5 separate regions of the Homo sapiens genome follow, and regions 1, 2, 4 and 5 are each reported to be linked to region 3. The links are microRNA targets in miRTarBase. Many come from high-throughput screens and were not tested one by one. Region 3 holds a microRNA gene; each other region holds the end of a gene's coding sequence.

Region 1 (6,444 bases), not on the chromosome of region 3:
GTTTAGAAACTGTTGCTAAGAAAAGTGGTCCATCCTGAATAAACATGTAATACTCCAGCAGGGATATGAAGCCTCTGAATTGTAGAACCTGCATTTATTTGTGACTTTGAACTAAAGACATCCCCCATGTCCCAAAGGTGGAATACAACCAGAGGTCTCATCTCTGAACTTTCTTGCGTACTGATTACATGAGTCTTTGGAGTCGGGGATGGAGGAGGTTCTGCCCCTGTGAGGTGTTATACATGACCATCAAAGTCCTACGTCAAGCTAGCTTTGCAGTGGCAGTACCGTAGCCAATGAGATTTATCCGAGACGCGATTATTGCTAATTGGAAATTTTCCCAATACCCCACCGTGATGACTTGAAATATAATCAGCGCTGGCAATTTTTGACAGTCTCTACGGAGACTGAATAAGAAAAAAGAAAAGAAAAGAAATTAGCTGGGTGCGATGGCTTATGCCTGTAATCCCGGCACTTTGGGAGGCTGAGGCAAGCGGATCACTTAATGTCAGGAGTTCAAGACCAGCCTGGCCAACATGGTGAAACCCCGTCTCTACTAAAAATAAAAAAACTAGCTGGGCGTGGTGGTACATGCCTATAATCCCAGCTACTCGGGAGGCTGAGGCAGGAGAATTGCTTGAACCTGGGAGGCAGAGGTTGCAGTGAGGCGAGATTGTACCACTGCATTCCAGCCTGGGCAACAGTGAGACTCTGCCTCAAAAAAATAAATAAATAAATAAATAAAGTAAATTAAAAGTCTTATTCAAACCAAATATGAAACTGGTGGTGATGTGTGGAATGTGTGTGTGTGTGCACATATGTAATGAATACGTGTGTGTATAATGTTTTTGCAGGTTTGCCAAATGATTCACAAGCCACGTGGCTGTTCTTAACACTGAAAGGTCCAGCAGAAAGGTGCAGTTACTCAGGAGAGAGGAGCCTCCTCTTAAGTAATCACTCGCATAAAACCTAATTGGAACTGAATTTAGAAAGCAGTTAAGATACATTCGAAACACAAGCACCCAACCAGTGCTGTCATTTATTCCCTTTTTTTTTTATTTTTAAGAGATAAGGCTGGGCTGTGTTGCCAGCTTTGACTCAAACTCCTAGGTCAAGCAGTCCTCCCACTTCAGCCTGCCAAGTAGCTGGGACTACAGGCACACGCCACTGCACTTGACCACGCACTTTTTCATTCACTTATTTTTTTCATTAATTCACTTCATCGGAGGAATTAATTTCTTTTGGTGTCATCTTTGGTAACAGTTGTATGTAGTGTTCATCCATCCATTCATTCAACAAATATGGACCAAATAGTGGTGAGCAAGATGGTGAACAATTCATGGTGCTGCCTGTCTAGCAGGTTTAGACATGAATTTAATTCTTAAGCAATAATTAATTACAGTTGTAGTAGATGCTCTGAAGAAGCACAGGGACTAAGGGAGACTTGTCTGTGGGGTCAGTGCAGGCAACCCATGGAAGTGATGTTGGAAGTGATTTTATTCCCCTTGGGGTCATCTTAGTGCTGTTTGTGCTTTTTTCTTTGCTTTTTTTTGAGATGGAGTTGGAGCCTCCCTCTGTCTCCCAGGCTGGAGTGCAGTGGTACAATCTCAGCTCACTGCAACCTCCCCCTCCTGGGTTCAAGTGATTCTCCTGCCTCAGCCTCCCGAGTAGCTGCGATTACGGGAGCGTGCCACCAGGTCCGGCTAATTTTTGTATTTTTAGTAGAGACGGGGTTTCACCATGTTGGCTGGGCTGGTGTTGAACTCCTGACCTCAGATGATCCGCTCGCTTCAGCCTCCCAAAGTGTTGGGATTACAGGCGTGAGCCACCATGCCCGGCTGCTGCTTGGGCTTCTACAATGAAATCTGAACTCTCTCTGAAAGCATCACTTCTGCTCATTCACCAGATGCTAAGTGCTTCCATCTAGAATGCTTCTCCCTTCACCTCCATCCCTTGTCTCCACTTCAGTGCAGCCCTGCTTCTCCTGGAGGTGTACATGCAGTGGATAGTGGCTCATGCCTGTAATCCCCGCACTTTGGGAGGCTGAGGTGGGCGGATCACCTGAGGTCAGGAGTTCGAGACCAGCCCAGCCAACATGGTAAGACCTTATCTCTACTAAAAATACAAAAATTAGCCGGGCGTGGTGGCAAGCGCCTGTAATCCCAGCTACTCAGGAGGCTGAGGCAGGAGAATTGCTTGGACCCAGGAGGCAGAGGTTGCAGTGAGCTGAAATCGCACCACTGCGCTTCAGCCTGGGTGACAGAGTGAGACTGTCTCAAAAAATAAAGAAACTACTGTACATGGAAAGCATTTTAAACAGTCTAGGACATGGTAGGCAGTCAATAAATGTTAATTAGCAAGGATTTTACATGCACTCTTTCATTTAATCACTACCACCGCAAGAATACTACCCCTATTTTACAGATAAATTCAGTAACTTACCCAAGGTCATATAGCTGGTAAGTTGCTGAATAGGAAGGCAGACTTGGCTTTCTCTGATTCCAAATCCTGTTATTAACCCTATACTAAGCCTTCCAAGGAAGTGCTTAATAGTAGTTATTAATACCTTATTTCATCATTCAAATTCTCCACCTTTTGAGGCCCTGACCATCTTAGCATAGGACCTAAATCCTTAATTTGGCCTGGCTGAATCAAAGGTAAAATGGATTTGGGATAAAGATCAAGAGACAGAGATCTCATGGCTCTCCAGAGATCTTCCCACAACACAAAGGGATATTATTATTATTATGAAATTTTTAAAGATTGGAGTCAAACTCTGTCCCCTAGGCTGTAGTGCAGTGGCACGATCCTAGCTCACTGCAGCCTCAACCTGCTAGGCTCCAGTGATCCTCCCATCTCAGCCCCTATTTGTAAATTTTTTGTAGAGATGGGGTCTCACTATGTTGCCCAGGCTAGTGTTGAACAGCCTGTTGAACAGCTAGTGTTGAACAGAGGTATCTTTTTTTTTTTTTTTTTTTTTTTTTTGAGACAGAGTCTTGCTCTCTGGCCTAGGCTGGAGTGCAGTGGTACAATCTTGGCTCACTGCAACCTCTGACTCCTGGGTTCAAGCAATTCTCCTTGCTTCAGCCTCCTGAATAGCTGGGATTACAGGCATGTGCCACCATGCCCAACTAATGTTTGTATTTTTAGTAGAGATGGGGTTTCCCCATCATGGCCAGGCTGGTCTCAAACTCCTGGCCTCAAGTGATCCACCCACCTCAGCTCCCAAAGTGCTGGGATTACAGGTATGAGCCATCACGCCTGGCCTGATGTATCTTCTTTGGTCACTTTTTCCTCCTCCTTTCACTCTAGTCATAACATGGCACGGAAGTACATGCAGTTTAGACATTTGTTGCACTCAATGAACAAATCTTTGTTGTTTATTTTAAAATTCAAGACAATTTTTTTGCAAATGCTGATTCAAAACGTACCAATCCCCATCTATCATGCCTATGCCAATACAATCTGTCACAAAAAAGTTTGCTTCTCATTGTCACATAGCTATGGGGACTGGTGGCCTTCTAAAATCACTGTCCAGCTGCTGCAAGTGTGAGGCCAGCAACCCACGGCAGGGATGCAGGAGGGAAGCCATGGCTAAGCTGTGGGCCTGGACAAAGGCCACAGATGGGGTTGAAAGGTGAGAAGCGGTAAGCTAGAGGAGACAGACGGCGTTGCCATTAAAAACAATTCAACTTCATTTTAATGTTGCTATGTAAGTTCACAATAAAATCCCTGGAAGTTCAAATTGGAAAGAGCAGTTTGGGGTCATGGGCTCAACAATATAAAGGCAGATTCAGTGAGGGGTAAGGGTAGTGGCTCTGGGGGCAGACTGACCTAGATTTGAATGCCAGTTGTACCAGACTCAAGACACCTTGGGTAAGTGGTTTTATGAAGTACCTCAGTTCTTCATCAGTAGAAAGAGTGCTAACACCTCCATAAGACTTTTGTATGGATTGAGTAAGATAATGCATGTTAAACCACTTGTATAGTTTCTGGCTAACTGTAAACAAGATGTTCTAGAAGTTCTAGTTATCTTTTTTTTTTTTTTTTTTTTTTTTTTTTTAAGAGTCAGGTTCTCACTGTGCCACCAAGGTTGTAGTGCCGTGGTGTAATCATGGCTCATTGCAGCCTTGAACTTCTGGGCTCAAGTGATCCTCCCACCTCAACCTCCTGAGTAGCTGGGAATACAGGCATGCACCACCATGCCTAATTTTTTAGAGATGGGGTCTTGCTATATTGCCCAGTCTGGCCTCAAGTAATCCTCCTGCCTCAGCTTTCTGAATTGCTGGGATTATCGGCATGAGCCACTGTGCCCAGCTAAGCTGTGACTTTTGAGGCAACCCCTTCCCTTCCACAGAGTTTAGTTTCCTCATTTGTAAAATGAGGACAAACCTAGATATTTTTGGAAGTTTCTTCCAGTTCTAATTGCCTATGATCAGATCACATCTGTTGCAGAGCTTCCTAAAAAGCCTGGAAAAATGCAACTCTGCCCCCTGGTGGTTTGCAGCTCTCTATTCAAGATGCTATAAATCCCTCATTGGCTTCAAGACCTCCCTACCATTTTGGTTGCTGTACACTGAAGCCTCACTGGATTGCATGGTGGCTTCCCCAAATTCCGTATGCCTTAGGATATGATGCTTGGCACACAGTTTTCCTTTAGTGCTCCTTTTAATAATTTTATTAGTATGGCCACAAGTTTGATGTCTACAGTACATGTTAACATAGCTGAGTACAAATATTTGAAATAAGTGTGGCAAGTTTTAAAATGTCAACTCTGAGTTATCATGCATGTCCCATGCATTTACATCTGCATCTGCAAACTGTACAATTCAATCTGTGCTTATCCTCACTGGGTCTCCCTGTGTGCCTCAGCTAGGGCAGGGCAGGGGCTCTTGTGCGTTTTTTCAGACCCAGATTTTCAAGAGCAACAGTGTTGAACTCTGGCATGCCATGGTGCATGGTGGCAACACCGGGTTTAGCTTTGGTTCAGGTAAAAATGCAGTGACCAACTATTGCATTTGTGTGAGTCACCTGATTCCCCAGGGCCTGGGCTAGCACAAAGGGTATTTTGATATCCCTGTATGAGGCCCCTGGCAGTTTCTGAACCCGTTTCGTCCCACCGTGAAAGTCTAGAAGTGAGGTTCGCAGTCTTCTACCATGCTGTCAGTGATATAGCTGGAACCAAGATGGGATTCGTAGTAACTCTTTTCATCAAAGGTATTAACAGTCCAACCAACAACCTGGATTCCTTTAGCTGACCACTTCTTCAAGTAGGCCCTGGGGAAAGAGGAAAGCCAATCCTGTTAGAATAATAAGCAGCTGTCTCAGGAATCCATAATGGCCACTAAGTATGGTGTTCACTGCATACCAATGGTGCCCAGAGAATGCCTCCTAACTGGCCTCTGCACTGTGATCAGAGGGACTGTTCCAAAACCCAGGATGCCATGAACCTCCTCTACACTGTCCCAGCTTAAAACATTTCAGTAGCTCACTAATGATCGCCACCCCCAAATGTCCTTGGCACAGCCACTGAAGGTGTGCCTGACCTGGCCCCGACCTGTCTCCTTGGCTTCATCTCACACCACATTCCCCCTTTCTTTTCTGTGCTGATTAATTTTAAATTAATTGAAAGAATATTAATTTTCTTTCACTTCCTGGAAAGAACCATGTTCCTTCCTGCCAGAGCACATTACATGTATTTTTCTCTCTGATCTGGATTCCTCCCAATTCCCACTCACCCTTCAGATCTTAGCTTAACTGTCACTTCCTTGGGGATGCTGTTTCTGACAACCCAGACCAGATTAGATTATAGCCCATGCACAGTTTTCTCTGACATAGCCTGTATCTTAGTTTTAACTTTATATTGATTGGATTTTTATTTGATTAGCATCTCTCACTCTCCCACTTGGCTATAAACGTCACGAGGGCAGAGATCATGGCTTTGATTCTTTACCCACTGCATCTTCAGCTTCTCAACATGGAACCTTGCAATAGTATAGGCACTTACCAAATATTTATTGAACTGAATCATGTATGTCTGAAATAATACTAGACCTACAACTCTAATTAGCTGAAATATACAGATACAGAATTGCCAAAGAAATGATTCCGAGATCGCTAGCAGGTTAGGAAATGGAAATTTTATGGGGAGAGGTGGGGGAGTGCCTATAACATAAGACGGTAGTGGGGAGGCTGGTGCCCACAGGATGTCTTCACTGTGGTTCTGCCCAGGATCCTGTGTTGGCTTTCAAAAAAACCAGTCACAGAAATAAAATCCCTTGCTCAGCATAGTGTCACAGGTTCATTTTTTTTCTTCAAAATACACTAAAAAACCGAAAATATGTGATCGACTCGGTCTGAAAACAGTGAAATATGCCTGAACTCTTCCCACCTAAGAAGCGAAATTGGTAATCCAATTTAGAGGTATGGTAAGCTTTGCAGGTC
Region 2 (6,444 bases), not on the chromosome of region 3:
TAGGTCAGGCATTTGGTAGCATGTCTTCAGCTGCTGGGATTTAACCAGCAAAGGAGCAGATTTCATACCTCCCTTGCACTGGTCATCCTTATCATTCTCCCCATAGGCCACTTGCCTGCCTTGTCTCTTTTTACCCTTGCAGCATTAAAGAGAGGAGGGTAGGACAGTCACTCCCAATCCCCATTTTAGAGGTAAAAATAGAGATCTAGGAATTGGTTGAGTTTGTTTAATGACAGCCACTGAATGAGGGACTTGGTTAGGTAAGAGACCTTATTTTCTGTCTCCTCTCCCCATACCAGTGGGCACAGTATAGCAATCTCCCAGCCCCATGCCTGTATTGTGTAAAGAATGTTTCTTTTTGGCCAGGCATGTGTATTACTGTTATGGCCAGGCACGTGTATTACTGGTTCACACCGGTAATCCCAGCACTCTGGGAGGCCGAGGTGGGTAGATCACTTGAGGTTAGGAGTGAGACCAGCCTGGCCACATGATGAAACCCCGTCTCTACTAAAAATACAAAAAATTAGCCGGGTGTGGTGACGGTGTCTGTAATCCCAGCTGCTTGGGAGGCTGAGGCAGGAGAATCGCTTGAACTCGGGAGGCAGAGGTTACAGTGAGCCGAGATCGTGCCACTGCACTCCAGCCTGGGCAACAAGCGTAAAACTCCGTCTTAAAAAAAAAAAAAAAAAAAATTAGCCAGGCATGGTGGCGGGTACCTATAATCCCAGCTACTCAGGAGGCTGAGGCAGGAGAATCGCTTGAACCCGGGGGTCAGAGGTTGCAGTGAGCTGAGATTGCGCCACTGCACTCCAGCCTGGACAACGAAGTAAGACTCCATCTAAAAAAAAAAAAAAAAAAATCAGATTTTATATAGAAAAGCTGGATCTCTAGCTTCTCTTGGAAAATCAAAAGATCTTATAATGGTGGGCTCTCCAGCTTGCCCCAGTTCCCCGGAACTCACCTGTCTTTATTCGTTGATGATATTATGGAGTATCTCTGAGAAAATGGGGCCTCCTCAGCCAGATGCTGCAAGAGGAGGTGAGGGGCAGTGGGCAGCCAAGGGGATGCAGCCTGCAGAAGGCGTTCCCAAAGGACTCTGCCACTGCCTGCCCATGCAGTGTGGCTGCGGCTGCTTTTACCCATTGGCTTCTGCTTTGTGCCCCAGATCACAGGCTGTATCGAGATGGAACTCTCAAGCTCCTGGGTCGTCTCTCCCTTCTCTCTGAAGAGATACTCTGGGCTGCCAATGGCTTACCCAACCCCTTCTGCTCTTCAGACCACCTCTGCCTGCTAGCCAGCTTCGGGATGGAAGTCACCGCCCCATGACAGGGCTCCCAGGGGAAGAGAGCTTCTCTTCCAGAAGAGCTCACTGGATCAGAGACTGTGGAAAAATCCCATGCATCTAGAAACTTAGATCCAAGAAACTTACATCCCCTCCCTTCCCCCTCCTCGTTCCCTTTTTCCCACGGTTAGACTTTCTCCAGGCCTGGCTGCGTTCTCTGCCTGTGGTCCTTGCCCCACCCCAGCCTCTTCCTAATCCTGTGCCACACACTCAGTGGCCCTGGGAGAGGCAGAAGGGGGGCTCCCCCTTCCTTCCATGTATCCAGCGCTCCCCCTTGATTTTTAATTACCAGGGTTATGGGAGTTCTTGATTTCATTGGTTATTTGCTTTCAGGCCGTTTCTTGATGTACCTTCTGACCTGACCTTTTCCCTGCCTTCAGGACTTCTGGGCCCAGCCCTCTTGCCAGGCATGCATATGTGAGATATGCATATCATGTATGTGTCCTCTTGGGGTGAGACTTCTGCACAGCCATGCCTGCCTCTGACCAGTCCACTTTTCATGTTGGGGCTGTAGGCCTGGGGCAGGTTCAGAGTCTACCCAAGTACCTATGTATGAGCAGGCAGCAGCAGGGCATGGCCCCATCTCTCCTTTTAGCCTCTGTGTTTCATTAGGCATTCATCCTGCCAACCAGGGCAGGCCCGGCGTCTGGGCTCTGGGAACAAATGGGGCCCACATCCTGGAGTGGCAAATTTTGGGGGATGCGCTACCTGTCCCAGCTGGCCCTGTGCCTCCAACCCAGAGCTCCCCACAGACCTGGTGTAATTTCACAAGGGCCATCCCTTTCCCCAGGCTTCCCTGAGGGAGGCGGAAGTTTGAACCCTTATGTGGGGTTCATTGGGCTAGGGTAGTGGTATGAGGTTTAAAACTATTTAAGGATTAGGAGGAGAAAGAGTCTTCAGGAAACTCTTGTTTCACTGGACTCTGCAGCCTGCAGAACTGGGGCAAGGGTAGGAGTTCCAGTAGGGGAAGGAGCAGGTAGACTCTTCAGCTGCCTCAGCTGGGACTGAAGACCTAAGCTGATTCTCTTTCCTCTCCACTCCTAAGAAGCAATTTTCTGTTCCTCTCCTTCCACCACTTTTTACTTTCTGCTATCTCCCATCTCCCGCTTCCCTTCCATTTCCTTTCTAGAAAACCCTGGTATTTAGCTCAGGCCAAACTGCCTCAGCAGAAAGGTGGCCTTGGACAAAACTGGTCCAAGAATTTGAAGTGGCAGTACTTGCGGATTGGCTCTGTCCAGCAAGGCCTCAGCTGCTTGTTGCGTCTGCTTTCCCTCCCCTAACAGAAGGGTACCCTGGCTTATTCAGGGGACTCCTTAGTCCACACTGTGTCACCTGCATGCCTTAATCTTTCATTGCTGGGGTGTGGCCTTGGGAGATCCTGGGCCAGCCCCTCCACACATCTCCCTAAGTCAGAGTGGCTGCTGGCCCTGGTAGATTTGACTTGCTCTTGCCTCACTCGACCTCCAAAGTGGGACTGAAGACAGTGGTCAAGAGACTTGAGTTCGGGACAGTAAGCCAGGGGTTAAGGTTCTTTCCTTTTTTTGAAAGCCAAAGACCCAGTTTGCATTGTGCTGCTGCATTCATGGTTAGAAGCTTTCCATGCCTAGGTTCTAGGGAATTTATTTTTCTATGTGTATATATTTTCAAACTTTGTTTCCTGGGTACTGGGCATGTGCCTGTCTGAGCCCCAGGTCTGTCTACACCCCACCATTCATTCTGTCTGTCTGTTCCCTGGACACTGCCTAAAAGGGTCTCAAGACAGTGCCCTGTGGGTTCCTAGGACTAGGGCCCATCACTGTTCTCTTCTGCTGGGAAATGCAGCTTTAAAATGGCTAACCACAGCAGAGGGCAGATGCTTGATAGATTATCTTTTCCTTGCTTTCTTGTTTCTGTTTTGAAAGTGAAATGGGGTTTTAAATTGTTATTTAAACTCTTTTTCCAAATAAAGGTTTACCTTTTTTCCCCCCAATGTTGTTCATTTTATTAGGATCCTGAAGGGATTAGGTCCTTGAGAGAGGGCCTGAAGAATGAGGTGGGCAGAGGAAGAGACTAAGGAGCTTTTGATCTTGGGGTGGGGTCTCAAGACATGAATCTAGATTGAGAAATGTGTTGTAAGATCTCCCTCTATTAGCTGAGGTAAATTCCCACTGCTGTGAGGCCTGGGAGGAACAGGGCTTGAGTGAAGCCTCCTGCCTTGACACTGCTGGGGTACAGCTTTCTTCTGTCCTTCCCAAGTGAGAGAATGATTCTTTGGACTGCTTTTCATTCTTCCTCCATCTGCTCCCCCCATGCCTCCTCCTAGTATCTTCTGCACTTCAGGAGGGTCTGTGCAAAGTGGGATAAGATGTGTGTTTTCCTGATTAAAGCTATGGCAGCTGCATGAGACATGATGCGGGTGGCACATGCCTCTTGCTGAGCATCTATTTCTGATCTCTTTTGCATTCTGGAGCCAGGGCTGAGCAGTGGGCCATCTGTCGCTGGAAAAATGTCTCTTCCTTCCTAGGCCTACCTCTGTTGGTGCTTTTGTCTTCCAACCTCCCTATGTAGTAAGACCAGCCAAGCCCACATGCCCACTGGGAGCCCTGAAACCAGATCTGGTTTTCTGTCTTACCTGAACAGGTTCCCAGAACCCACACCAGGCCTCTGAATCAGTCTCTGAGAATCTGATTGATTTAAAGCCACTTGGTTGCTTCCATTGCACTACCTGGGTTGCGATCCCCTCAATTGATTTAGTAAAAAGAAAACTTAGCGGCCGGGTGCGGTGGCTCACACCTGTAATCCCAGCACTTTGGGAGGCTGAGGCGGGTGGATCACCTGAGGTCGAGAGTTCCAGACCAGCCTGACCAACATGAAGAAATCCCGTCTCTACTAAAAATACAAAATTAGCCGGGCGTGATGGCGCATGCCTGTAATCCCAGCTACTTGGAGGCTGAGGCAGGAGAATTGCTTGAACCTGGGAAGCGGAGGTTGTGGTGAGCCGAGATCATGCCATTGCACTCCAGCCTGGACAACAAGAGTGAAACTCCATCTCAAAAAAAAAAAAAGAAAAGAAAAGAAAAGAAAGAAAACTCAGCTAGGAATTAGAAACATCATTTGTCCTCTTGGCCTGTTCAGCTGGTGACTGTAGGTAAGTTACTTAACCTCTCTGTATTTCAGTTCACATTCCTTGGTGAAATAGAAATTAAAGTTAATAATCACTTCTACTTGTGAAGAATTTTCAGATCTGAAATTGCTTTGTTTGGGCTTTGGCAAGAAAAAGGTGCTAAGAATTCCAGAGAATTATTGGTAGGAGTTGGGAGTAGATCGTTACCCCAGCCAGGCTGGACAGTTGGGCCCATTGGCTAGGAAGTATTTGAAAGCCCTAAGCTTTGAGGTATATCCCCAAGAACCTCTTCCTGGCAGGGAGGGTTCCTCCTAGTTGCCTCAGTCAGTTAGCATCTCCACAGCACTTCTGTTAAGTTTGCACAGTACTTCCACGTCAGCTAGCAAAGACAGTGGCACTGTGTGGTGGCAGTTTAGGTGGTGTTCAGATTCTACCTTTACACCTGAGGAAACAGAAATCCCAGAGATAGAATTTGAGAATCTCCTTTGGTTTATTTCTTACCACCCCAAGTTTCTCACAAGCCTTTCCAGGATCAGGCAAGACAGGTTATCTTGGAAGGCAGAGGCTGGTGGTGGGGGCCTGGGGCTGGGGGAGCTCAGAGGCAGCTTTTAACTGGAGACCAAGAAGGGAAATGGCCAGTCAGGAGGCTGCTGCTTTTTTTGTTTTGTTTTTCTCTCCAGTTCCTGCCCTGTTGTAGCTACTAACTAGAGGAATGTTCTGGTTGTTTTGTTTTTCCTTTTTAAAATTGACATGTGATAGTTGTACATATTTTGGGGCTGCATATGGTATTTTGATACATGCGTACAAAGTGTAATGACCAGTCAGGATATTTAAGGACATTTATCACCTCAAGCATTTATCTTTTCCTTGTGCTGGGAACATTCCAATTCTTCTAGCTATTTTGAAATATACAATAAATTGTTAACTATAGTCTCCCTACTGTACTATCAAATACTAGAACTTAGTCCTCACCATATTTTTGTACCATCCACCTGCTCTTCATTCTCCTCCCCTGCTTTTCCCAGCTTCTGGTAACCCCATTCCGCCCTCTATTGGAGGGTTGTGTTTTGATTGGCTGCGAAATGCACAGTGTGGCTTCTCTTCTCCCAGGAGTGGGAGGGGCCACCTCTAGGGTCCACCAGGGGGAGCTGCCCTGCAGCCCTGGGCTCCCATCACTCTGGTCCATCCCCTCTCCTCTCCCTCCTGAGCAAATGTGCTAGACAAGACTGTTCCAGGTATGGGCCAGCCAGATGGCAGCATGGTGGTGAGGGTGCAGATCTGCTGGAAGCAAGAGAATGTGGACTTCATGGGTTGTGGAGGGAACTCTGCACTTCTGTCCCATCCCCAGTCAGCTCCTATGACCCTAAGGCCTGAAGCCTCAGCTCGCTGTGGAGAGAACAGAGCCTACACTTAAAATTCTTGGAGGTTTTGTGCTTCCAACAACCAAGTCCTTTCAGGCTCAGGGTTGGAAAAAGTTTGTATATCTGTGTGCACATTGTCATTTGGACGGGGCTCAGAGAGGTGACCTGCCAGCTGACCTGACGTGGCCTCTCCTCATCTTCTGCCAGGCCTCAACAGCTGGTCCCCTCACCTTGCTGGCAGACACTAAGGGTTACAGGCAGCCTGCTTCTGGGCCATTCTGCTTGGTTCTTGGTATGACTGCTTCCTGTCACTACCTCCACGGTAGTGGTCCAAATGCCAGCTCCTGGTAAATGGGGCAGCAGAGCTTCAACCCCTTCATCGTCAGGCCTCTGAGAAGGGCCACCTGCACCCAAAGGTCTAACCCAGTTAGTCAGGTGCCTAAATTAGGCAGGTGCGTGCTGTGAGCCTGAGGAATGGGACAGCAGGAAATGAGGTAACCCCTTCCACCCCCAAGCAGGTCGGGTTCTGATCCTCCAGGAGTCTGCAATGACATTTCCTTCTGCTTTCTAAGAAAATGGCCAGTGTCCACAAAGAGCCTACCTGACTCATTACGTAGATTCTCACCCCAGCACTTACT
Region 3 (4,035 bases):
TCTAAACCAGACTCTTGAGAATTTGTGACTGTAAATATGAACGTTCAAATTTCATTTTAAAAGTATCCAAGTTTTCCAATAGAGACAGAATCAGATAGTGGTTGCAAGAGGCGAAGTGGGGGAAGTCACCTGGCTGCAAACACAAGGAACTCAGGAACTTTCTGAGTGGGTACGATGGAAATGTCCTATATCATGATTGTGATGGGTAATAAAAGTATTCATTTGTCAAAATGCATCAATACTCTTAATTGAGGTAAATTTTACTGTAGTTAAAGTATTTCTTAATAAGCCTACCTTTATGGCCAGCCACAGTGGCTCACACCTGTAATCCCAGAACTTTGGGAGGCCAAGGCGGGTTGATCACCTGAGGTCAGGAGTTCAAGACCAGCCTGGCCAACATGGGGAAACCCTGTCTCTACCAAAAATACAGAATTAGCCGGGCGTGGTGGCATGCACTTGTAATCCCAGCTACTTGGGAGGCTGAGGCAGGACAATCACTTGAACCCGGGAGGCGAAGGGTGCAGTGAGCCACCATCATGCCATCACATCCCAGCCTGGGAAAAAAGAGCGAAACTCCATCTCAAAAAAAAAAACCCTACCTTTAAAACATGCATGTAAACTTTCAATTTACAAAGCCACTCACCCTGGGAAAATATAAAGCAAAAATATTAAGCCTAAAGTCCAGTACAATTCCTCAATCACCCTAGAAGCCAGCTATACTCTAGTTCAACTACTTACAGAAGGGCCACATAATAGCCAAAGTAAGAGAAACCTGGAGCCCCCATTCGCCCCTGCTCCCCTCAGCAACACAACGGGCCCAACAATCAGGAGACAGGACGAGGGAGACGTACTGTGAAAATCTTTCTTTTATTACTGTCTCATGTGGCAAAATAACATTTTATACAAATAAGTCACCTAGTTTACTTTGGACACAAAGACAATAAAAACTGGAATGTGATTTTGGGGGAAGCGGGAAGGAGGAGGAAGGACAGATCAGGTCATTGATGTTTCTTATATTCTGTAAAAAATAGATTTACAGGAAAAAAAATAGACTTTCACAACTTCAATGACTTTACACGGTCCTTTGTAAAACCAGTGGTAAATCCACCTCCACCAAATCCTTCTTGAGGCTGATATGTTCTGTGACATGGAATGTGAGTAACACAATGGTTCAATGATTAGGCTCCTACACCAGGTACAGCAGCACCTGATGCCACAGGAATCCTCGTGCACTGGGGTGAGGAGTCAGTCCTGTGAATTTCAGGACACACTGTCCTCATCCCCAGACCTCACTGACATCATAGTGACACTGGCCATCAGAAGAAAGTGACTTTACAGAGGGGAAAAGAGTATCCTGGAAGCGTACCGGTGGGGCAGGACACACTAAGGCAGGACTCACCCAGTTTGTACATTAGACACAGCCTATTAAATCCATTCCAGAAATGAGTTCCACTTCAACTGAAAAAATAAACTGAAGATTGCCCAATCACTGCCATTTCACAAATTTCCAGTTTATGGTCAGCCCCAAAATCACATTCTTCCACCCTATGTATTGGAAATCAAATGGCCCAAAGACTGAGGTGTCTTCAGGAAGCACATGCTTGAAAAATGTTTTCTCTGCAAAACAGTATTGAGTAATACATAAGGAGACATAGCCTACTTTAGCCCAAAACTTCTTTCACTTGTTATGTCCTTTTACCTCTTAAAACATAGAATGAAATAAACTCGGATCTTCTTTGGAGAAGCTAGAAGGGCATTTTGGCCCAAAGGCTGTACAGGAAAAGAGAGGCTCTCTCCAGGAGACTGCAAGGCAAAGGAACAGAAGCAGGAGGGGCAGGCCCTCTGGCACCAGGTGGGCCTGCTACTCTGATGAAATGTGCTCCCAGCTCTTGACAAAGGGCAGGGTCTCCTATGCAGGTAGTTTTTTTGCCGCCTCCCATTGTATCACCCACAAGGTAACTGCTATCAACAGTTCAGATTCCTTAATAACATGGCAGCCTGAATGGTTCTGTTACTTTCAGAGAAAGTATGCCTTGCAATTCTCTCCCCAACTCAGGTACAAACGCTTGAATTTCAAACTCATACTGGTTTACACCCCAGAGTGGAATGCTTCTCAAGATTTCCTGAGCAGCTAGACACAGGAACCCACAGCCCCAGATACAGAACACCAGACTTTCAGAAGCAGCAAAGCCCTGTCCTGCTGGGCATGGACCAAGCACTATCCGCAAATGGTCTCCAGTGAGACTAAGGCAAGCTAACAAGGAAGAGGATACAGCACAACTCAAGCCAGATTGCCCACCTCCTCCTTCCTCCACATCCTCTTTCTAGCAAAAGCGAACACTGCAGATAAGAGATAGCCCACTAATGTAGCAGATACAGTGTGCCCAGGGGCATGTTTCCAAGACACACTCTACTAAGCACAGCTCTGGGCAGCTCCAGAACCACATCCCAGATAATACTCAAATATCAAATAGTAGAAACTGTCCCACCTGGGCCTCTGTCAAAGAGAGAAGGGATTGTTGTTACGCTTGACAGGAACATGCAAATCCCATTTGAGGAGCCACAATGAGAAACAGAAGGTGAGGAGACAGTGCTAACAGCCCTGGCATCTTTCTGCCAGTGAGGAGGTGGGAACAATGGCAATGCAGCTTTCCCCTGCAGCATAAGGGACAGAGCCACACGTAAGGCACCTGGATTTACAGTGGACGCCAGTTCTGAGAGTGGCCGGTCTGGTGATAAGGAACCCACTCCACAGGAGGAATGGTCTCTCCCCTCTCTCGGGGCTGAATCCAAGGCCAGCACACAGGGGTAAGCTAGGACCTTCTCAGTGAGAAAGCTGCCAGCATGTGGCATTGCCAAGACTCTGGCCTGGGACAAAGCACTGGGCCAAGGTTCGGGGCCACTCGCCCTAAAGCCCACACAGGGAGCAGCACTGGTGGTGGATGGACAGGAATTTCTGTGGCCACACACTGTCTCTTCCATCCCTGGCCCCCATACGGCCTTTCTCCCAAGCACATCAGGACACTCTCCTGTCACAGGTACTGTGACACCTCACAGTCACTTACCAGATACCTGGGCCTTTCCTAGTGACATCCTTCTACTGATGCTAACTGGACCCTGGCCACATCAATCGTCTCATCAGAGGGTTTGTGGAGTCTGTCCACTAAGGGTCTGAGGACAAAAGCAGCCCACAGATGTGCAAGTGAACTTTTTTGAGAACACATCACTCTGACAGGCCACATCAGCCTATTTTGCCCTTTCTGAACACCTAAAACAATTCTAACTAGCAGTCTGAAGGCTCAGACTGCATTACGTAACTCTGATCCACCAGGAAAGTTCCAGAAACTACTTCAGTAGAAAGGTAGATAGGAAAACCCTCCTAAACAAGAAATGTACAAAGAGCTTCGGAGGCAAATCCCCATCAAAAGCCAATCCTCCAGGCTGTGCAGTGCAGAGAAAAGTCAAATCTCTCCTTTAGAAAGCTGCTGCTGATTCGTAAGCATATCCTCCCAACATAAGCCAGATTAGCCCCTGGAAGCTGATACTATCAGAAGTCTAACCACATATCACATATGCTGGGAACACCACTGTCATTTTATAAAACCTCCCCGAAAGAAGTCTGGAAATAAAAAAACAAAATACAAGACCTGCTCTGGCCTCAAGAGATACTACTGTTCCATGAGCAGAGCTGACTCATTCTATTTCATGAGACTCAGAAGGGAGGAGCCAGGAGATGTGGAGCAAGCTTGTCTGTCCTCCAAAATGGGAACAGAAGGCACTGCCAGGCTGAAAACTTGGTCTATTCCCAGGAGGGCTGGCTGAGACCCTGGAAGTCAGACAGAGCAGCAGCCTCTCCACAAAGCAGACCCTTCAGCTTGGCAGCATCACCCATTCCTTGGTGCCTCCACTCTTGGCACCTCCCTCCCTCCCCACCCTTTCAAGTGTCTTCCAGTTGGTTTAAGACTTCACACAGACCGAGGGCAGACTGCGCTGATGGCAATGCCGGAGGTGAGAGGAGGAGCTACCTGGAAGAGG
Region 4 (6,444 bases), not on the chromosome of region 3:
TCAATAAAGCGACTGCCTTCTTTTAACCCAATCACTTTCCCTTCTCTGTGATTGCTTCTCCTTGTTTCTCTCCAGTTACTTTCTTAATATCTGAGGACTGTAACTTCCTCTTCTCCATCCATCCTCAGTCACTGGCATTTTCTCTCTCCTGGTTTGCCACACCAGCCTTTCAGCTGCCTTGCTCCTGGTCTTCCCATTCCATTGTACCTCCGCCAGAGCTACCTTGCTAAGATAAGTAGTCAGGTCATTACTACTCTTTTTTTTTCTTTTTAAAAATAATTAATTGAGATTCGTATTGATTATGATCTGCTTTCACTTTGGTGATTTACAAAACTACCAAGATAAAGATTACAGGCTTGGAATTCCTAGAGGGGGTCACTGATATCACCAGAGAAAAACTTTGCCTTCCATTTGGTGATCTGATGTGGTCTGTATTCATTTCTCAATTTAAAACTGCATATTTACTGAAATCAATCTTTTTATTTTTCAGAATGACATTTTCCTCAGACATTATGACAAAGGGCCATGCAGGAATAAACTTGGCCACTCAAGAGCATCAGTGATGTGGAACCGAACACAGGTACCCTGACCTTATAGGGAGCGTGACATAAACCAAAATCGTGATGGCTTAAAGAGCCCACCTCTTCGCCTTTCCTCATTATTCCCTCCTGGGAGGTACCATCCCAGCCTGGGAGCTTCTGGGGAGTGTTAGGGCAGGGCTAGGGAAAAGTAATGGGGTAAATACCTAAAGTTAATTCATGAGCACAGTCTCCTTAAGGACAAGCGGAGAAACAGGGGCACCAGAGCTGCCAGGCAGTCAACAGTGACGTGCAGAATGCAGGCAGATGTTCTTTCCTCTTGAGAAACAGTGGAATGACTTTCCTAAAGCCCTTTAAGGCATATTACCTATCAAAGGCAGTGTATTAGTCTGTTCTCACACTGCTAATGAAGACATACCTGAGACTAGGTTAGTTATTAAGGAAAGGGGTTTAATGGACTGACAATTCCACATGGCTGGGGAGGCCTCACAATCATGGCAGAAGGCAAAGGAGGAGCAAAGTCATGTCTTAAATGGTGGCAGGCAAGAGAGCTTGTGCAGGGGAACTCCCATTTATAAAACCATCAGATCTCATGAAACTTATTTACTACCACAAGAACGGTATGGGGGAAACCACCCCCATGATTCAATTATCTCCACCTGGCCCTGTCCTTGACACGTGGGGATTATTACAATTCAAGATGAGATTTGGGTGGGGACACAGCCAAACCATATCAGGCAGTGCTCTAAAACCCTGTGAGCCCCTTCTAGGGCTTAGATCCCTGTGTACATGCCATTGTGTGTTTATGTGGCAGGTTCAAAAGGAGTCATGGTTTATTTTTAATTTTTAATAGTGTTTTATATTTATTAAAGGCGGTATTCCTTTGGAGGGAGTCAGTGCTAATATCCTAGTAATCATTAACATCCCTTTGAGCTAGTTGAGGAAATTCAAGTAGAGAGAGAGCACCAATACCAATAATTCATGACTATACTGAGCTTGCGACAGCTTGAGTTAGCATTTGGATGGTTTCCATCCTTGATTTGGTCCTTTGTATCTCTCTGGCTTCTCTCCAATTCAGATCATTGCTGGGCACTAGCTGAAAGGTCCCAGAAATGTAACTGTTCTGTGTGCCTGAGATGATGTCTTGTTCAGGCTGCTATAACAAATGACCATAGACTGGGAGGCTTAAAGAACAGAAATTTACTTCTCATAGTTCTGGAGGCTGAGAAGTCTGAGGTTCAGGTGACAGCATGGTCATATCTTAGCAAGGGCTCTCTTCCTGGTTTGAAGATGGCCATTTTTTTGCTGTGTCTTCACATGGCATAGAGCCTAGAGAAAGAAAGCAAGCTCTCTGGCATCTGTTCTTGTAAGAGCACCAATCCCATCATGAGGGCCCTGCCCTCATAAACCAACTAACTTCTAAAGGCCTCGTCTCCAAATACCGTCACATCGGGGATTTAGGGTTTCAACATATGAGCTTCAGGGGGACACAAACATTTGGCCCACAGCAGATAACAGTATAGTTGGAATAAGTATACATATTGAAAGACTTAATTGCTGAAATATGCTTTTCTTTGAAATTTCCAGGTGGTGGGGATTCTCGTAGGCTTGGGCATCATTGCCTTGGTTACTTCACCCTTGTTACTCCTGGCCTCCCCATGTATAATCTGTTGTGTCTGCAAGTCCTGTCGGGGCAAGAAGAAAAAGCACGACCCATCCACAACCTAAAGATCTCTGTGTTCATACGCCCCAGATATGTGAGTTACATGAGATGGCACAGTGATAAAGCCCCATTTAGTGACCTTGCCTCCTTCTCCTTGCCAACTTTGAAAGTGCCTCCGTGTCCAGACTTTGAACTTGCCTGCCAGCCTTCAGCATCAGGAAAGGCCAAGTCCTGGGTGTGAGTGTTCCTGTGTAACAAGAACTGGGCTCAACGGTCCAGCTGTTTCTATGGAGCTTTGGGGTTCCTTGAGATGAATGAACATATCATTTTATCATCCAAAGGATCTCACTGGACTGTTCAACTTCCAGCCAAATTCAAGGAGCTTGCGGGAACATTTGATATAACAAATGTGTTGTCATTGTTGGCAACATACAAGATAACCAAGAAGCTGGAGTCTGTTCTGTGTTGATTTGACTGCCATGAGAAACACAGGGGAAACCTGATGAGGAGAAGGATAAGACTGCGTAAGGAGAAATCCTCATAGGAGCTATAAAGCAGGCTGCTGATCTCAGCAGTTGATATGGTGGTTGTGCCTCTGCTGGCTACTGGGTGTGCTGTCCCCATGTTCCCGCTGTGATTTGGCAGAAACACAATAGGCTTCTCCTTGTGTGATCTCAGCTTCAAGCAGGTGAAACTGCTGTGCAGAGGGAGTTGCCCCTTCCCAGTAAAAGAGTTGCAGCCTGTTAAACAATGTGGTCTAATTTAGTGTCTCTCCCTTGGCAAATGTAAGTTTTCTAAGTTGGCCAACTTGTCTCTTACAGCCAGTGGCTGTGGTCTACAGAATTGTTTCATATAAAATACGGGTAGAGTGGTAGAGTTTCAAAACTTTCGTCATAGATATCTGGGACCTTTCTCAGGATCTGTGTTCACACAGCCAATAGATTTGGAATCAGGCCTAAGAGTACACATGGAGGGTAAATATTAAAGTGCGTATTATGTACATCTAGAATCCATGTGACTTGCAGCCTACCTGTAATTTCTATCCATTGAGCATGCATGGATATACCCAATAGTACACACAAAATAAATGTTTACTTAAGAGCCATTCTATCCTTTTGTGACTGAAATGGTTTATTGTAAATCTGCCTAAAGATTTTTTGCATATTATATATGTGAATTTTGGTTGTAAGTTCATAACTTACCCAAGGGTATAGACTCATAACTCTTTTAAAACAGTGCTTAGTACAATATCCTGCCATCTCTGTAAAAACGCTAATTGATAACCGAGTCATTTACATGTTTTCGAACACAGAATAGCTCTTTTCTCAGCATCATTATTGCTCTTTCAGCATCTGTTAGGACAGTCTGAATACTTTCTGTTTCAAGGCACTGATAAAACCGCAACAAAAACATGTAAGAAATAAAATAGAAATGCTTTATATAATTTAGTTTAAATTTATGTATCACCTCATTGTGACTTATTTTTTCCATTATACCATTAGTCAGATTTGAATAACGAGGTTTTGAAAGGATAAAACCTTTTCTCCAATGACAGGATTATATAATTGCTATTGGCAATGTAGCCTGGTGCTTCATGAGACCTATGCTAAATGTTACTGGAGAGTTCTTGAAGCCAGGGATACCATATCAGGAACTATTCAGGATCTATGATATTTTCTGAGGTAACTGGGTAATAGAATATCAAATTGCTGCTATCTCGGACCTATTGTTAAAGGATGATGCTTTGCCTATGTAATAGGATATATCCTAAGTGGGGATGTGTATATTTCAGGAACTTTAATTCACAAGTATATATTGATATCTGATGTGTGTATAGTACATCTGTTGGTTATGTACATTTTAATTTACATGTTGTGTAGAACATAGATGAGAACTCTGGGAAAACTTGGGAATGGCAACCAACCAAAATCATTTTTAATCATTTATTAGAAATTTCTCAATATTGTGTCTTTTTCTTTTGAAACTCTAAACACTTCAGAAAAAAACACTATCAGTGTAGTTCATGTTAGTATAATTATAGATTTACATATATTTGAATAGTTAATTTGCTTTGTTTTACACGTAGCCCACTGCCTCATTATAGGTAAAAGGCATTTATAACTGCTCAGGGGATTACGAGAACTCAACTGAAACTGAATTTTTGTAACAAGAATGTTAATAGTGGCAAAGTCCTCTGTCAGTAAACTCTTTAAGCTTGGTGCTGCAAAGAGTCTTTAAATGGGGGCTGATTTCAAGTAACCTAAAAGACTGTGTTATCAGAGGAAGAGGTCCCAAATTTGGAGTAAAGATGGGAGAAAATAAATATGTGCTATTTCCTTGGCGAGTTGAGGGAATTTGCCACCTTACAGAGTTTGTATCACTGAATTAGCTGCTTTTGTTTTTTTTTTTTTTTTTTTGCCAGGGCTATGGAGTGGGGGTTGTTTGTCAAACTGATTTTCAATAATTGGATTTAATTTTTTTTAACATTGAAAAGTGCCTGAAAAATGGTAAATTCTTAAATGTGTGTGAGATTGTCAGAATCAACAAAACTAGGTTGGTTAAACATATCTCTGGTACATCAAGGGGCATGATACAAACCAGTCTAAAGACTGTTTATAAAGGAGAGAGCTGGCGACTTATTTTTATTTTTATTTTTTGGACAGAGTCTCCCTTTGTCACCCAGGCCGGAGTGCAGTGGCATGATCATGGTTCACTTCAACCCCTACCTCCTGGGCTCAAGTGTTCCTCTCACCTTATCCTCCTGAGCAGCTGGGACTACAGGCACACACCACCACACCTGGCTAAGTTTTGTATTTTTTGTAGAGATGGGGTTTCTCTGTGTTGCCCAGTCTTGTCTCAAACTCCTGGGCTCAAGCGATCCACCCACCTTGGGCTCCCAAAGTGTTGGGATTACAGGTGTGTGTCACTGTGCCTGACAGCTGACAGTTTTAACTGACAACTTTGATAACAGAGGCTGCTATTTTTGTTTTAGATAATTGGCCAGTGACAGAGTTTACCCTTGCCTCCTTTCTTGGTCTGCCAGCTTTGTCCTTTCTGAGTGATTCTCTTTCTGTATTGAGAGGAAGTGTGGGTCTACATAGGGATGTTTGGATGCTATGGCAAGAATCTTTTTGTGTTTGGAGTGTAGTCCATTTGCAATAGAAATAAAAAAATCCGTCACCAAATTGTAACCTGGATGTTATAGCCCAGCATCTAGAAATCCTATGAAACGTATTAGCACAATATCTTGCCATTGTCCCATCTAGGAAATTTTTTCTTGTTGTGAGGTAGGGAAGTGAGGAGGAAAGCCATGCCGAAGCAAATGTTAGAATCTTAGGCATCCTATTTGTTCATGCCATGGGTATTTGCTTTGGACTTGGAGTCTGTACTTTGAAAGAGGCCTTTGAAAAACAAATAATTCTGTGTGAATTTTCTTGTAGCGTGCTTCATGAAAATATCTACTTATCCAGGTTTGCAAATGTACATGTTCATTTGAATGTAAATCACCATTTCTTGGAACCCCACGTTTTTTCTTAAAAATTATTCTGAATTAAATGTATATTTCTTTAGCCTTCCCTACACAGTACTAATAAAAGACTTTTCTTTCTGTTCATGAATGGATGCCTTTATGTGATATAGAGTCATGTGTGTATGTGTAGCTTTAAGGGCAATTTCAGAAATGCATTAGATGAATGACATTTTATAAAGCGATCACAATTGATATCTACAGGCTATTATGTCTCATGTTGATTCATGATCCAGGAAGTTTTATGTATTTAAAAAATTGCTATCGTGTTATATTTTTCCAATTTTTGGAGAAGAAAATAGCTGTTTAGGCTCTCTAGCCACAATAAATGTAAGCAGGAAATCAAGTGTGTTAACCTTTGTTGCGCTGCACAATTCTAGGCATGTTCAGTTTTATCCTTTGAGAACCAACCAAGTTACTGTTAAATCCTAGGTTCTGAATTTACAAAATGTACCAGAATTTGCAATACCATCTATGGAAATAACTCTTGGCTACTTTACTTCTTAAAAGAAATAGGGTCAGGGGGTCAGGTGTGGTAGCTCACGCCTATAATCCCAGCACTTTGGGAGGCCAAGGTGGGCGGATCACCTGAAGTCGGGAGTTCGAGACCAGCCTGGCCAACATGGTGAAACCCCGTCTCTACTAAAAACACAAAAAATTAGAACCCTGTCTCTACTAAAAATACAAAAAAAAAAAATTAGCTGGACATGATGGCA
Region 5 (6,444 bases), not on the chromosome of region 3:
GGAGTGCGGGGGCACCATCACAGCTCACTGCAGCCTTGACCTCCCAGGCTCAAGGATCCTCCCACCTCAGCCCCGAGCAGCTGGGACTATAGGCACATATGTGTACTGCCACTCCTGGCTAACTTTTTACTTTTTGTAAAGATGGAGTCTCACTGTGTTGCACGGGCTGGTCTCAAACGCCTGGGTTCAAGTGATTCTCCAACCTCAGCCTCCCAAAGTAGTAGGAAAACAGGCATGAGCCACCATGGCCAGCTTCAGATCTCCTCTTTGGTGTCAGTTTCAGGAAGGAAAAACCAAGAAACAAGAATGTTGACTATTTGCCTGGCTAAGACCTGACACAGGAATCCTTTTAAACAGCTTTAGAGTTGAAAGTTGACTTAATTAGAAGCTGATATTTAGGATATATGTGTATACAATTTTTTCGAGGCCTCTGCTTTCTATAAAAGCTTCTTGGAGGCCGGGCGCGGTGGCTCACGACTGTAATCCCAGCATTTTGCGAGGCCGAGGAGGGCAGATCACAAGGTCAGGATATTGAGAGCATCCTGGCTAACATGGTGAAACCCCATCTCTACTAAAAATAGAAGAAATTAGCTGGGCGTGGTGATAGGTGCCTGTAGTCCCAGCTACTTGGGAGGCTGAGGCAGGAGAATGGCATGAACCTGGGAGGCGAAGGTTGCAGTGAACCGAGATCACGCCACTGCACTCCAGCCTGGGCGACAGAGCAAGACTCCGTGTCAAGAAAAAAAAAAAAGCTTCTTGGCCAGGGAAGAAGCTACAAAAAATACAAAAATTAGCTGGGTGTTGTGGTATGCACCTGTAGTCCTAACTATTTGGGAAGCTGAGGCAGGAGAATCGCTTGAACCTGGGAGGCAGAGGTTGCAGTGAGCCAAGATCGTGCCACTGCACTCCAGCCTGGGTGACAGAGACTCCATTTGAAAAAAATTAAAAATTAGCTAGGTGTGGCCAGGCACAGTGGCTCACGCCTGTAATCCCAGCACTTTGGGAGGCCGAGGCAGGCGGATCACTTTAGGTCAGGAGTACAGATCAGCCTGGTCAACATGGTGAAACCCTCTTTCTACTAAAAATACAAAAATCAGCTGGACGTGGTGGTGGGCACCTGTAATCCCAGCTACTTGGGAGGCTGAGGCAGGAGAATCACTTCAACGTGGGAGGCGGAGGCTTCAGTGAGCTGAGATTGTGCCATTGCACTCTAGCCTGGATGACAAGAGCGAAACTCCTTCTCAAAAAAAAAAAAAAAAAAAAAAAAAAAACCGGTGTGGTGGTACATGCCTGTAGTCCTAGCTACTTGGGAGGCTGAGGCAGAGAATTGCTTGAACCTTGGAGGTGGAGGTTGCAGTGAGCCGAAACTGCCACTGAACTCCAGCCTGGGCAAGAGAGTGAGACCCTGTCTCAAAAAAAAAAGGATTTCACCATGTTGCCCAGGCTGGTCTCGAACTCCTAAGTTGAAGTGATTTGCCCTCCTCAGCCTCCCAAAGTGCTGGGATTACAGGTATGAGCCACCACACCCTGCCTGGGCCTGATAATTTAAGGGCGCTCACAGCTCTCAGATTAAACGTTTCTTTTCTTTCTCAGGACTCCTTCCGCCCACCCATTCCTCCTCCCGAGTCCTTTCCCCTTCTCAAGTGCAGCCTGTAGCAGGGCCTGGAGGGGACCCTTGACACTGTGCCCCTCACCGAGAATCTAAACCCCTGACCCCGCAGTGAGTTTCTGGCAAGAACAGGAGTGTGATGGGCTTTGCCAAGCACCAGCTTGGTTGTGGGCTGTTTCCTTCAGTGACTGTTTGGCTTTTTGTCTTTGCAGGTTCTGCTTGGATTCTGCTAGACAGACCCGACAAAGACTGTCTATCAACTGGTCCAATTTTAGCTTGAAAAAAGCCACCTTTGCTGCCCACTGAATGAGGACTCCCTGGAGAGGGACACGCGAGAGGCAGGCCAGGCTGCACCACCCCAAGAGCCACGCCCCTCGCTGGCGCCCCAGAGCCGTGGTGCTTGCCAAGGGCTGTGCGGAGCTGGTGCTGCCTGAAACCCCAGACCGAGAAGTTGATGCTCGGCCCACGCCGTTAGCTCGTGTGCGTGTAGTCTGTGCGTGAGACTCCTTCGATTGTAGCTCTGTGCTGTCGGATTGGAACAGTAGTTCCCGCCAAGTCCTCCCACCACCGCGGCCTCGGAGGCCTGGGCCGTGGCCAGATAGGAGTTTGCATCATCCACGTGGCTCCGTTGCCTCTGCATTGCGCCCTGTCCTGTCATGTGTCCTCACCGGGGTATCGGCCGTCACTCAGCTCTCCTGTGCCCCTGCGTCTCACCCTAGGCGGGCTGGGCGGGGCAGGCCTCCTTTGTTCTCCACAATCTACTGTCTCCGAGTGTACACGTTGCGCTGTTTGTGTTTGATCCCCCTGACTTGTAGCCAGCTTGTGTAAGATCCCTTGCAGAACGAGAAAGTTAAAAACAAGCCCACCCAGTACTCACACCATCAAGTCTGTTATAGAGTGTACGACTGTATTAACACGGAGGCCTGCCTGGCTACTTTTTTAACATATTGTTAAGTAATATTAAAATCATGTCTTTCTTTTTGAAAGATGGAATACATTAGTACAGCAGGAGACCTCGGCTGCTTCTTTCTGCTGGGGGAGTGGGGGGATAGCGGGAGAGGGCGTGTAGGTGATGTGTCCGCCATGGGGAGCCAGGGCACCACCCCGGAGCAGGTCCCAGGTCTCTCCAGGCAACGGCTCACCCATCCTGGTGCCCCCACCATCCTCTGTGTGCCAGGCAGAGCAGGCAGCAGGAGACAGAAAGCTCCCAAGGAGCTGCATCCTGGTTACTTCTTACTACCTAGAACACTCAGTAGCTCCCACTTCTCCCAGCCTCATGTTCAGCCTGTCTCTGTGTGCCCTATCAGAGTATGACTTCACTCTGAGTGAAGGTGAATAGGGCAGGGCCTGGTTGGGGAGAGGGTAGGGAGAGCCAGCTTCTGGAGGTATTCGGACGATGAGGCCACAGGATTTCCTGGTGGACAGGATGCAGGTAGGAGAAAGAGGTGAAGACCTGCGCTGTGTGCCTGGAGGTGGGACTGGAGACCAGTTCTGGATGGTGAGTCTGGGATGTCCACCGGCCACCCAGGTGAGAGGTCTGGAACTGGGGACTGCTGTTCATGGACAGAGCCTGTGTGAGGGCCCTGCAGGGGTGAGTAGATGGGATGGGGGCCCGAGCTGTGGAACCAGGAAGGCAGAGGAGGGTGAGGAGGCTTCGAGGCAGGTCAGGGGAGACAAGGCCCAGGGCACCCCCACCCAGGCACCGGTTTGCAGGAGAATGAGGTGGGGACAGCAGGTCCTAGAACTCTGGAGATTGCACGAAAGCTGGAAAAGGGTCACCAACCAGGGGAGGTGCAGCACGACGAACTTTCCTCACTTGTTTTTTTTTCCAGGTGTGAGGAAGAGAACGTTCCTTTGTTCGTGGGATGATAGGGCAGAGAGTGAAGCAGGTCAGGCCATGACCACGGCAACAGTAGTGTCCTTGAAACCCCAGTGCAGGCCCCCGGGACTCCAGCCGCTGCCTCTTCTGGCTGCGGTGGTGGCTGGGGAAAGGCCCAGGCCCGGGCCTCGCCCTATGGGGAAGCTGCCTGCCCAGGCCCCCAGTACCTGCCCTGCTCTCCCCATGGACAGCCTTTAACACTGTGCTGAACCATGCCTGTTGCTGAGGGGAACTGCACAGCCCTGAGTGGTGATGGGGAACTCTGGGTGCCCCGACACACTAAGCATCATGCTGGGACCTAGAGACCCTCAGACGCCCACCGCACATGCCCAGTTCTGGGCACTCCCATCACCTCCATGGCAACCCTGCCTGCGGCTTCACAGCTCTGCCCGCTCTGGCCCCTGACCTGCACCTGCTAGCTTTGGCCCTCAGGCTCCCAGCCATTGTCCTGGCCATGCCCTTGCCAGGAAGGATCTTCCTCTATTTCCCTGGAAACCACTCATCCTTCCAGCATCCCAGGGTGCTTATAGGACATCCAGCTCCAGGGTCCCTGACTTGATGGGAGCCCCTGGGGTTCCTGATGACATCACTTCCCTGTGGGGGAGGGTGGGGCCGCCATAGGGGAGCCTCACATTTTTGACTCACACAGTAGCACAGGGTGAGTATCCCTTATCCCTTATCTGGCATCCTCAGTACCAGAAGTGTGTCCAGTTTCAGACTTTTTTGGATTTGGAGTATTTACATCATGCTTACCAATTGAGCATTTCTAATCCAAAAATCTGAAATCCAAAATGCTCCAATGAGCATTTCCTTGGAGCATCATCTTAACACTCAAAAGGATTTGAATTTTGGAACCTTTCGGGTTAGGCATACTCAACCTGTAATAGTCATGAAATGAAACAATAACAATAGTTAGAAAGGAAACTTTAACAGTGAACAGTTGTATTGAGAAGCTTACTGTTTTCTGCACCCTCAGCTCTGAGCCCTGCTCAGAGATTTTGCCTGGGTAGAGAAACAGGCAGTAAAACAGATAGCTCCTAATCTCTTCCCAAAGAAACTGACTTTGTTTGCAACAAAGAATGAAGAGGTTCAAGCCTGAAGGCACTCAGAAACAGTGGAGGCCATGAAACCCTGGGAAGAGAGACAAGATGCAGGCTCAGCTACAGGCCAGATAGTTTGCAGGAGGTAACTGAAGAAAAGAGCTGGGAGAAGGCATCCAGGGGTCAGAAGGAATATCACACAGTGTTCCCAGAAACTCTCTCTTCAAAGGAGTCAGAATTTGATTGGATTTGTTTGTAGAGCATGGTGCCCCAGGGCATTGTTGAAAACAATAGAATTGGCAATTAGTGGTTTAATGAATGTGGTCAGGGAAAGAGGAAGAGAACTCTACCAAAATGACTGTCATCCCAGGGTGACTGTGGGCATACGCAAAGCTACACACCCTGAGGAGCAACATCATAGCTGGAATACTAGTGGGTAGTAGAAAGAAAACAATGATATAATAAGGCTGCATCAAATGAATATAGAAATTATTTTAAAGGAACCAAATGGAAATTATGGAATCTGAAAAGTTACGTGTGTATATATATACACACACATATATATACACACACACATATATATACACACACACAGAGAGAGACAGATGGAGTCTTGCTCTGTCACCCAGGCTGGAGTGCAGTGGCACCATTTTGGCTCACTGCAACCTCCAACTCCTGGGTTCAAGTGATTCTCCTGTCTCAGCCTCCGCAGTAGCTGGGACTATAGTTACACACCACCATGCCTGGCTAATTTTTGTATTTTTTGTTGAGACGGTGTTTCACTGTGTTGGTCAGGCTGGTCTCAAACTCCTGACCTCAGGTGAGCTGCCCACCTTGGCCTCCCAAAGTGCTGAGATTACAGGCATGAGCCACTGCACCCAGCCTAAATTTTAAAATTAGCAGAAGGAAAAATAAGTGGATTTGAAGATAGGCTGATGGAGATTATGCCAGCCAAAGAACATAGAGAAAAAAATAATGAAAATAAAGAGTCTCAGAAAAATGTGGGACACCATTAAGCATACCAGCCTATGTATAATGGGAATATCAAAAGGAGAGCAAAGAGCAAAAAAAATATTCAAAGAAATAATAGTCGAAAACCTCCCAAATTGAAAAATAGTAACATGTATCCCAGAAGTTGAAAATGTTTATATTAAGAAACAAGAAAGATCTCACTCAAATCAATAAACTAACTTGTCACCTTAAGACACTGGAAAAAGAGCAAACTAGGCCTAAAGTAAGCAGAAGGAATAAAATCATAAAAATTAGATCAGAAATTAATGAAATAGAGGATGCAAAAATAATGGAGAAAATCAACAAAACCAAAAGTTTTAAAAAGGTAAACAAAATAGACATCTGTAGCAAGATTGACCAGGGAAGGATTCAAATTACTAGAATCAGAACTGGCCACACAGAAAAAGGATTTTAAAGGAATACTAGAACAATTATATGCCAGCAAATTTGGTAATTTAGATGATATCTTAGTCCATTCATGCAGCTATGACCAAATATCACAGACTGAGTAATTTATAAATAATAGAAGTTTATTTCTCACAGTTCTGGAAGCTGTGAAGTTCAAGAGCAAAGTGCACCAACAGATTCAGTGTCTGGTAAGGGCTCACTCTCTGCTTCCAAAGTGGCACCTTGTTGCTGTATCTTCATATGGTAGAAGGGCAAAAAGGGGAATTAAGGTGATCCCTTCAACCTCTTTTATAAAAGCTGTAATCCCTTTCATGATGATGGAGCACTCATGATTTGAACACTTCCCAGAAGGCCCCACCTCTTAATACTATCACCTTGGGCACTAAGTTCTAACATATGAACATATAAACCATAGCAGATGAGATGGACAAATTTCTAGACAGGAAGAAGCTACAAGAACTGACTCCAGAAGAAATAGACAATCTGAATAGACCTAT

Evidence for each region. The annotated mature microRNA hsa-miR-4700-5p reads UCUGGGGAUGAGGACAGUGUGU and lies in region 3 at 1,266-1,287, opposite strand. An mRNA with a match to its seed (bases 2 to 7 or 8) in the 3' UTR can be bound and repressed. Matches are read on the target gene's strand: a 7mer-m8 pairs with bases 2 to 8, a 7mer-A1 pairs with bases 2 to 7 and ends in A, and an 8mer does both.
Region 1: miRTarBase lists GDE1 as a target of hsa-miR-4700-5p. Seed matches in the 3' UTR shown: 7mer-A1 at 3,818-3,824.
Region 2: miRTarBase lists ANGEL1 as a target of hsa-miR-4700-5p. Seed matches in the 3' UTR shown: 7mer-m8 at 2,126-2,132.
Region 4: the mRNA of RNF144B is a reported target of hsa-miR-4700-5p. Seed matches in the 3' UTR shown: 7mer-A1 at 2,287-2,293.
Region 5: the mRNA of FAM193A is a reported target of hsa-miR-4700-5p. Seed matches in the 3' UTR shown: 7mer-A1 at 1,993-1,999 and 7mer-A1 at 2,046-2,052.

The regions. Positions count from the first base shown.
Region 1 is chr16:19,498,341-19,504,784 of GRCh38, forward strand. GDE1 (glycerophosphodiester phosphodiesterase 1) reads right to left here. Exons shown (of 6, transcript NM_016641.4): 6 at 3,353-5,277. The coding sequence ends at 5,130. It overlaps TMC5 (transmembrane channel like 5), which reads left to right. Exons shown (of 22, transcript NM_001261841.2): 22 at 1-773. It also overlaps the pseudogene RNU4-46P. Among named protein-coding and RNA genes, the nearest start is that of TMC5-AS1, 14 kb to the left of the region's middle.
Region 2 is chr14:76,784,110-76,790,553 of GRCh38, reverse strand. It overlaps ANGEL1 (angel homolog 1), which reads left to right. Exons shown (of 10, transcript NM_015305.4): 10 at 1,166-4,545. The coding sequence ends at 1,326. VASH1-AS1 (VASH1 antisense RNA 1) reads left to right here and starts at 3,830. Exons shown (of 2, transcript NR_104184.1): 1 at 3,830-4,469. RefSeq lists an enhancer at 5,683-5,732.
Region 3 is chr12:120,720,454-120,724,488 of GRCh38, reverse strand. MIR4700 (microRNA 4700) reads right to left here and starts at 1,296; the gene lies at 1,223-1,296. UNC119B (unc-119 lipid binding chaperone B) reads right to left here. Exons shown (of 5, transcript NM_001080533.3): 5 at 849-4,035.
Region 4 is chr6:18,462,801-18,469,244 of GRCh38, forward strand. RNF144B (ring finger protein 144B) reads left to right here. Exons shown (of 8, transcript NM_182757.4): 7 at 491-580; 8 at 2,127-6,070. The coding sequence ends at 2,267. Among named protein-coding and RNA genes, the nearest start is that of MIR548A1HG, 57 kb to the right of the region's middle.
Region 5 is chr4:2,729,954-2,736,397 of GRCh38, forward strand. It overlaps FAM193A (family with sequence similarity 193 member A), which reads left to right. Exons shown (of 21, transcript NM_001366318.2): 21 at 1,822-2,620. The coding sequence ends at 1,915. Among named protein-coding and RNA genes, the nearest start is that of TNIP2, 23 kb to the right of the region's middle.